Homo sapiens: one gene and its partner. The protein of the gene in region 1 purifies or fractionates together with the protein of each later gene. This does not show direct contact. Each region holds a gene or a part of one and is shown in the gene's direction. Other genes may lie near its edges.

The links. Proteins that work in one complex are often made in the same cells at the same time.
Region 2: the proteins of ZIM3 (region 1) and DDI2 purify together in Homo sapiens (co-immunoprecipitation; one large-scale study listed by IntAct). This does not show direct contact.

Annotation. Positions count from the first base shown.
Region 1 is NC_000019.10:57,135,203-57,138,702, reverse strand, and holds part of ZIM3 (zinc finger imprinted 3), read left to right. Parts: intron 1-104; coding exon 105-231; intron 232-1,731; coding exon 1,732-1,830; intron 1,831-2,607; coding exon 2,608-3,500. UniProt on the Homo sapiens protein: May be involved in transcriptional regulation.
Region 2 is NC_000001.11:15,620,458-15,623,957, forward strand, and holds part of DDI2 (protein DDI1 homolog 2), read left to right. Parts: intron 1-3,500. UniProt on the Homo sapiens protein: Aspartic protease that mediates the cleavage of NFE2L1/NRF1 at 'Leu-104', thereby promoting release of NFE2L1/NRF1 from the endoplasmic reticulum membrane.

The DNA of each region.
Region 1 (3,500 bases):
ATTATGGACATGATTAAAGCTTGGTTCAGCAGAAACAAGTTTCTGTATCCTCAGCCGCAGGATTCAATGGCATTTTTATACTGATCGGGAATCTGTTGTTACAGGGAAGAGTGACCTTCGAGGATGTCACTGTGAACTTCACCCAGGGGGAGTGGCAGCGGCTGAATCCCGAACAGAGAAACTTGTACAGGGATGTGATGCTGGAGAATTACAGCAACCTTGTCTCTGTGGGTAAGGACGGCTTCCCGGGCAGGGGGACTCAAAACCTAAGGCGTGAAACACACAGACACCCCATGGCTGGCCAAATAGGGTTGGCACAGAGGTGCTCCTCACTTCGCATATGTTTTTGTAGAGCCGGGACTAGGGTGAGGCAAGTGAAGTGTACCAAGTGCTGTATTGAAGGAGCCCCCATTCTCAGGGTCGGCAAGTGCCGGGAGAATGAGTGAGGGCCTCTGTAAGTTTTGTGGGCTGGGTGCCCTGCCCTTCACCCTACTCCTGGTCTTGATTTTTGGAAAAGCTTTATCCTCCAAGAAGAAAAAGCATTTCTTTCTTTCCCTTCCTTCCCTCCCTCCCTCCCTCCCTCCCTCCCTGCCTCCTTCCCTTCCTCCCTTCCTACCTCCCTTCTTTCCTTCCTTCCTTCCTTCCTTCTTTCCTTCCTTCCTTCCTTCTTTCCTTCCTTCTTTCCTTCCTTCCTTCCTTCTTTCCTTCCTTCCTTCCTTCTTTCCTTCCTTCTTTCCTTCCTTCCTTCCTTCTTTCCTTCCTTCCTTCCTTCCTTCCTTCTTTCCTTCCTTCCTTCCTTCTTTCCTTCCTTCTTTCCTTCCTTCCTTCCTTCTTTCCTTCCTTCCTTCCTTCCTTCCTTCCTTTCTCCCTCCCTCCCTCTCTCCATTCCTCTCTCTTTCTTTATCTCCTTTCTCCTAACAGGGTCTGGCTGTGTCACCGAGGCTGGAGTGCAGTGGTGCAATCATAGCTCACTGTAGTATTTTTTTTTTTTGGAGACAGTCTCGCTCTGTCACCCAGGCTGGAGTGCAGTGGTGTGATCTCGGCTCACTGCAACCTCCGCCTCCCAGGTTCCAGTGATTTTCCTGCCTTAGCCTCCCGAGTAGCTGGGATTACAGACGTGCACCACCATGCCTGGCTAATTTTTGTATTTTTTGCACAGATGGGGTTTCTCCATGTTGGTGAGGCTAGTCTTGAACTCCTGACCTCAGATAACCGGCCCGCCTCAGCCTCCCAAAGTTCTGGTATTACAGGCATGAACCACCACGCCTGGCGTCACTGCAACATTGACCTGGGCTCAAGCCATCCTCCCACCTCAGCCTCCTGAATAGCTGGGACCACAGACGTGCACCACCACACGTGGCTTTGGTTTTGTAGAGACTGGGTCTTGCTATCTTCATGTTACATGTAACATGTTGGTCTCAAATTCCTGTGCTCTAGCAATTCTCCTATCTCGGCCTCCCAAAGTGCTGGGATTACAGGCATGAGCCGCCACACCCAGCCCAGAAAAAGCATTCTTTGTTTAGTTCGACTGCTCAGGTGCATTCCCTCAAACCATCCATCCACACAACTCCCCCCAACCAATGGCACATACCCACACACTGACATATAAATGCTCACACTCACACACAAATATTCACACAAGCATACGCAAGCGCTTATATACACTCATACACTTGCACAAACAACTCACACATCCACAAACACCAAGCCTTGCGGTATCTTCCATCACAGGACAAGGGGAAACCACCAAACCCGATGTGATCTTGAGGTTGGAACAAGGAAAGGAGCCATGGTTGGAGGAAGAGGAAGTGCTGGGAAGTGGCCGTGCAGGTAGGTGACCAGGAGAGCACTGTGGGTCAATGGTGCATGGAAGCCAATTCAGCTTTTCTAAATGAGGAAGTCGTTTGGCAGCCAGCTGTGACTTCCTGGGAGTGCTGGAAGAAATCTCCAGGTATTTTTCTCCACTCAGAAATTTCTTTACATTCTTATCTGGGTTTTCCTTTGCAGGCAAACTCTTTTTTTTTTCTTTTTTTTTTTTTTCTGGAAACGGAGTCTCTGTCGCCCAGGCTGGAGTGCAGTGGCGCGATCTGGGCTCACTGCAACCTCCGCCTCCCGAGTTCGAACGATTCTCCTGCCTCAGCCTCCCGAGTAGCTGGGATTACAGGCACTTGCCACCATGCCCGGCGAATTTTTTGTATTTTTAGTAGAGACAGGGTTTCGCCATGTTGGTCAGGCTGGTCTTGAACCCCCGACCTCAGGCAATCCACCCGCCTCAGCCTCCCAAAGTGCTAGGATTACAGGTGTGAGCCCCTGTGCCTGGCCTGGCAAACTCTCTTTCTTAATCTCCCTCTCCCTGGTATCCCTAGGCTCTCACCTGCTCCCTGTGCACTAGGTCTACGTTGCTCAGTCCTTTACAGACAGATATGTGATAGCTTCATGTAACATTAGCTCACATAGAACTCTAACAGAGCTTATATTAACTTTGGTTTCTCGTAGACATTAGGTTTGAAGCCAGAATAATCACCACAATAGATTGTTTATGGCATTTTATTTCAAGCATGTGAGTGGAACGTTTTACACAGGACATTTTTTTGTATTCCATTTTAGAAAAAAATGGGGACATTGGAGGGCAGATTTGGAAGCCAAAGGATGTGAAAGAGAGTCTCGCAAGAGAAGTCCCATCAATCAATAAGGAAACGCTGACTACGCAGAAAGGTGTAGAATGTGACGGATCTAAGAAAATACTTCCACTGGGCATAGATGATGTATCTTCCTTGCAACACTATGTACAAAATAATTCTCACGATGATAATGGATACAGAAAATTAGTTGGCAATAATCCATCCAAATTTGTAGGACAACAACTGAAATGTAATGCCTGTAGAAAGTTATTCAGTTCAAAGTCACGCCTTCAAAGTCACCTGAGGAGGCATGCCTGTCAAAAACCCTTTGAATGTCATAGCTGTGGAAGAGCATTCGGGGAGAAGTGGAAGCTTGATAAACATCAGAAAACTCACGCAGAGGAAAGGCCCTATAAATGTGAGAACTGTGGAAATGCCTACAAGCAGAAGTCAAATCTCTTTCAACATCAGAAAATGCATACTAAAGAGAAACCCTATCAGTGTAAGACATGTGGAAAAGCCTTTTCCTGGAAATCATCCTGCATTAATCATGAGAAAATTCATAATGCCAAGAAATCCTATCAGTGTAATGAATGTGAGAAATCCTTCAGGCAGAACTCAACCCTCATTCAACATAAAAAAGTTCACACTGGACAAAAACCCTTTCAATGTACGGACTGTGGAAAGGCTTTCATTTACAAGTCAGATCTTGTGAAACACCAGAGAATACACACGGGAGAGAAACCCTATAAATGTAGCATATGTGAGAAGGCCTTTTCCCAGAAATCCAATGTCATCGATCATGAGAAAATTCACACTGGGAAGAGAGCTTATGAGTGTGATCTATGTGGAAATACCTTTATCCAGAAGAAAAACCTC
Region 2 (3,500 bases), on another chromosome or scaffold:
TATTACTCATCTTCCCTTCCTTTCCTAGACTGTTTAACTCCTCCTCTTGTTTACATTCTCCATTCCCATTCCTTCACCTCTCATTTCTGATTCCATTTCTTCAAGGAAATATATATATTTTTATGTTCTGGCTATTTTTTCCTGCCACTATGTGTCCACACCACTGGTGTCCAAACTTTCATTCATGTATCCCTATCAGTAAAATGTTTCAGATTATGCTTCTGTTATGTATATAATACATTATATACATGAACTGATACGTTGTATACATTATATATGGCCACATGTGCATATAATACACATAACGTGCATTATATGCATATATAATATGTTATCTGTAAAGTAACATTGTACACACACAAAATGGAGCTTAAGGAAGGACGAACTAAAATAAATGGAAATGAAAATTCTAATATTTTCAGTTTCTTCCTCCACCGTTAAAGAATTGTCTTGCATGGCTGCCCTACATTGGTGATCAATGGTTTAGAATTCAGTCTTTCACCTGAGTGTCAATTGCACATAAGCATATAGTTGGAAAAGGTGTTAATTTTTAACAGCTCTAGTCTGATGATAGTAGTTACAATGCAGTGATAACAAATTTAGAACAAGCCATCTCTGCTTGTACATGTGATTAAAGCTGGGCATGTTCTGTCTCTTAATAGAAGTGTGGGCTTGGAAGCCAGTCATGGCTCTGTTTGATGCTTTGATGCAGACTTGCCTGGGTGAACTTCAAACAGTTATCAGAACTTAGCTTCACTTTAAATTAATGTCTTCATATTTTTGAGACATGATAATTTACCTCTGTAGGTGGCATATGGAAAAAGTAGGCACAACATACAAGGACCCTCAAATGAAAGGCAAATAATAGCAGTAATTGTATGATCTTGGAAATGCACACAGCATGATTTGTGGTTTGTAAACCACTATTTTATCTTCTGTGTGTTTGTTTTTTTGAGACAGGGTCTTGCTCTGTCACCTAGGCAGTAGTGCGCTCACAGGTCACTGTAGCCTCAACCTCCTGGGCTCAAGTGATCCTTCCACCTCAGCCTCCTAAGTAGCTGGGACTACAGGTGTATGCTACGACATATGACTAATTTTTTTGTTTTCTTTGGAGATGGGGGTTTCACTGTGTTGGCCACGCTGGTCTCAAACTCCTGACCTCGGATGATCTGCCTGCCTTGGCCTCCCAGAGTGCTGGGATTACAGGCGTGAGCCACCGCATCCGGCCCCAAATTGATAATTTTAAAGGCTACATAATATACCATCATATAGATGTGTTGTAATTTAGCAATTTCCCTTTTGTTGAGCATAATATTGGGGAAAATTGGAAGCAGTTGTAAGTAACATGCCATGAACATCCATATACTTAAGACTGTAGCCTCCATTTCTGTTTTCTCAGGATGAATTCTTAGATATGCAGTTGCCAGATCAAAAGCATAAAGTCTTTGAAAGGTTTTTAGTAAATTTAGATTATACAAGTCAAATTGGCTATTACATGGGGTAGTATATGTAGATAACTTGGTAGATATTGGGTATTTGATTAATGGTAATACTATTATGAAGCCATTCAGATGTAATTCCAAATGTTTTGTGGCCGGTTTATGGTCCTTATTTTATCTTTATTCTTTATATTTTAGAGATGGGATCTCGCTCTCGCCCAGGCTGGAATGCAGTGTTGCAATCACAGCTCACTGTATCCTCAACATGTTGGGGTCAAGGGATCCTCCCAAGTAGCTGCGACTTTTTTTTTTTTTTTTTGAGACGAGGTCTTGCCAGTGCTAGGCTTGAACTCCTAACCTCAAGCAGTTCTCCTGCCTCTGCCTCCCAGAGTGTTGGGATTACATGTGTGAGCCACTGCACCTGGCCTACTAGTTTATGTTCTGTAATGCTAGAAATTTATTGTTAAGCTTTTTGTTAATAGAAGGCTCTCATTCAGAGACCAGAAAACACCTGACCTCATGCTTAAAAGTTCTGAAGTTTTATTAATTAGTCTATTGTTAAATGTTGATTAAGATTATAATTCAGTCTCTGGGGTGCCTCCTCTGGAGTAAGTACCAGCAGTTGTGCCAGTTTTGCTGATTAAGACTCATAGCTGTATACATTTTCTTGTTGTATGTTCTTATAACTGGCAAAACTTGAATTTTGGGCTTTGTAGCTGTTGAGTTGGGTAACATGAATGGTGGAAGGATCAAGAATGCCGGCAGCGGATCCCCTTTTGTTTTTATTGGTAGAGATTTGAAGCCATGTCTAATAGATACTGAATGTTTGGTTGGAAGATCACATGGATTTATTTTGGGACTTTTGCTGCAAAATAATTGTCTTTCTTGGACTCTTAAGCCTATTTAAACAAAAAGAAATCAGTTCTTTGTGGCAATTACAATTTTAGCTAAGCTTTAGTTGATCTCATTTATGTCCTTAGATTAAAATGGAGCACAGCTGCTGCTTCGTCAGTGTGAGGAACGTGTGCGCCTCACCCAGGTTCTTCAGTCTAGTGTTTCCAGGAAATTGGCGCTGAAGCAACATTTCATATTTCATAGACATGCTCAATGTGGTGGTTATCTAGATTTTACATTTTTATTGTTAGATCATGCTGCCTTCCTTTAAAAAATGCTATTGTCTGCTGAGGAAATATTGTGGCAACTAAGCAGTGATGGAGTGAAGTATGGCATCTGTGAAGTGGGAGTCAGAGCGGGCAGTTGGTGGTGTTTCTTCATGTCCAGGGCATGGGGATGCGTTGAGCAGTGGACAGTATTTTGATCCTCTTAGTGGATAGAGTCTCTTAGTGGCAATGGATGGCTTAGTAGTACTTGTTAAAATCACCCAGCTAATTCACCAGGCCACTTTAGGGTTATGTTCGGGAAAGCTGTATATGATACTCCTGGAGTAATGGGCTTTGAAATTAGACAGTTCCAATTGCAGTTTTCTTCTTCTTTTTTTTTTTTTTTTTTTTTTAAGAGACAAGATCTTATTCTGTTGCCCAGGCTGGAGTGCAGTGGTACAATCATAACTCACTGCAACCTCGAACTCCTGGGCTCAGGTGATCCTCCAGCTTCAGTCTCCCAAATAGTTGAGACTACAGGCATATGCTACCATGCCTGGCTTATTATTATTATTATTATTATTATTTTAGAGATGGGGTCTTGCTGTATTGCCCAGGCTGGCTTTGCATTCCTGGCCTCAAATGATCTTCCTACCTCATCCTCCCAAAGTTTTGGAATTAAGGCGTGAGCCATGGCACCCAGCCTGCATAGGATCATTTTGATTCTCCTGAGTTTGCTTCCTCCTTGTAAATAAATAAATTTTCTCTTATAAATAGTTAGTGGCCGGGCGCAGTGACTCACGTCTGTAATCCCAGCACTTTAGGAGGCCAAGGCGGGCAGATCACAAGGTTAGGAGATCGAGACCATCCTGGCTAACATGGTGAAACCCCGTCTCTACAAAAAATACAAAAAAAAAATTAGCCGCTTGTGGGGGCAGGTGCCTGTAGTCCCAGCTACTCA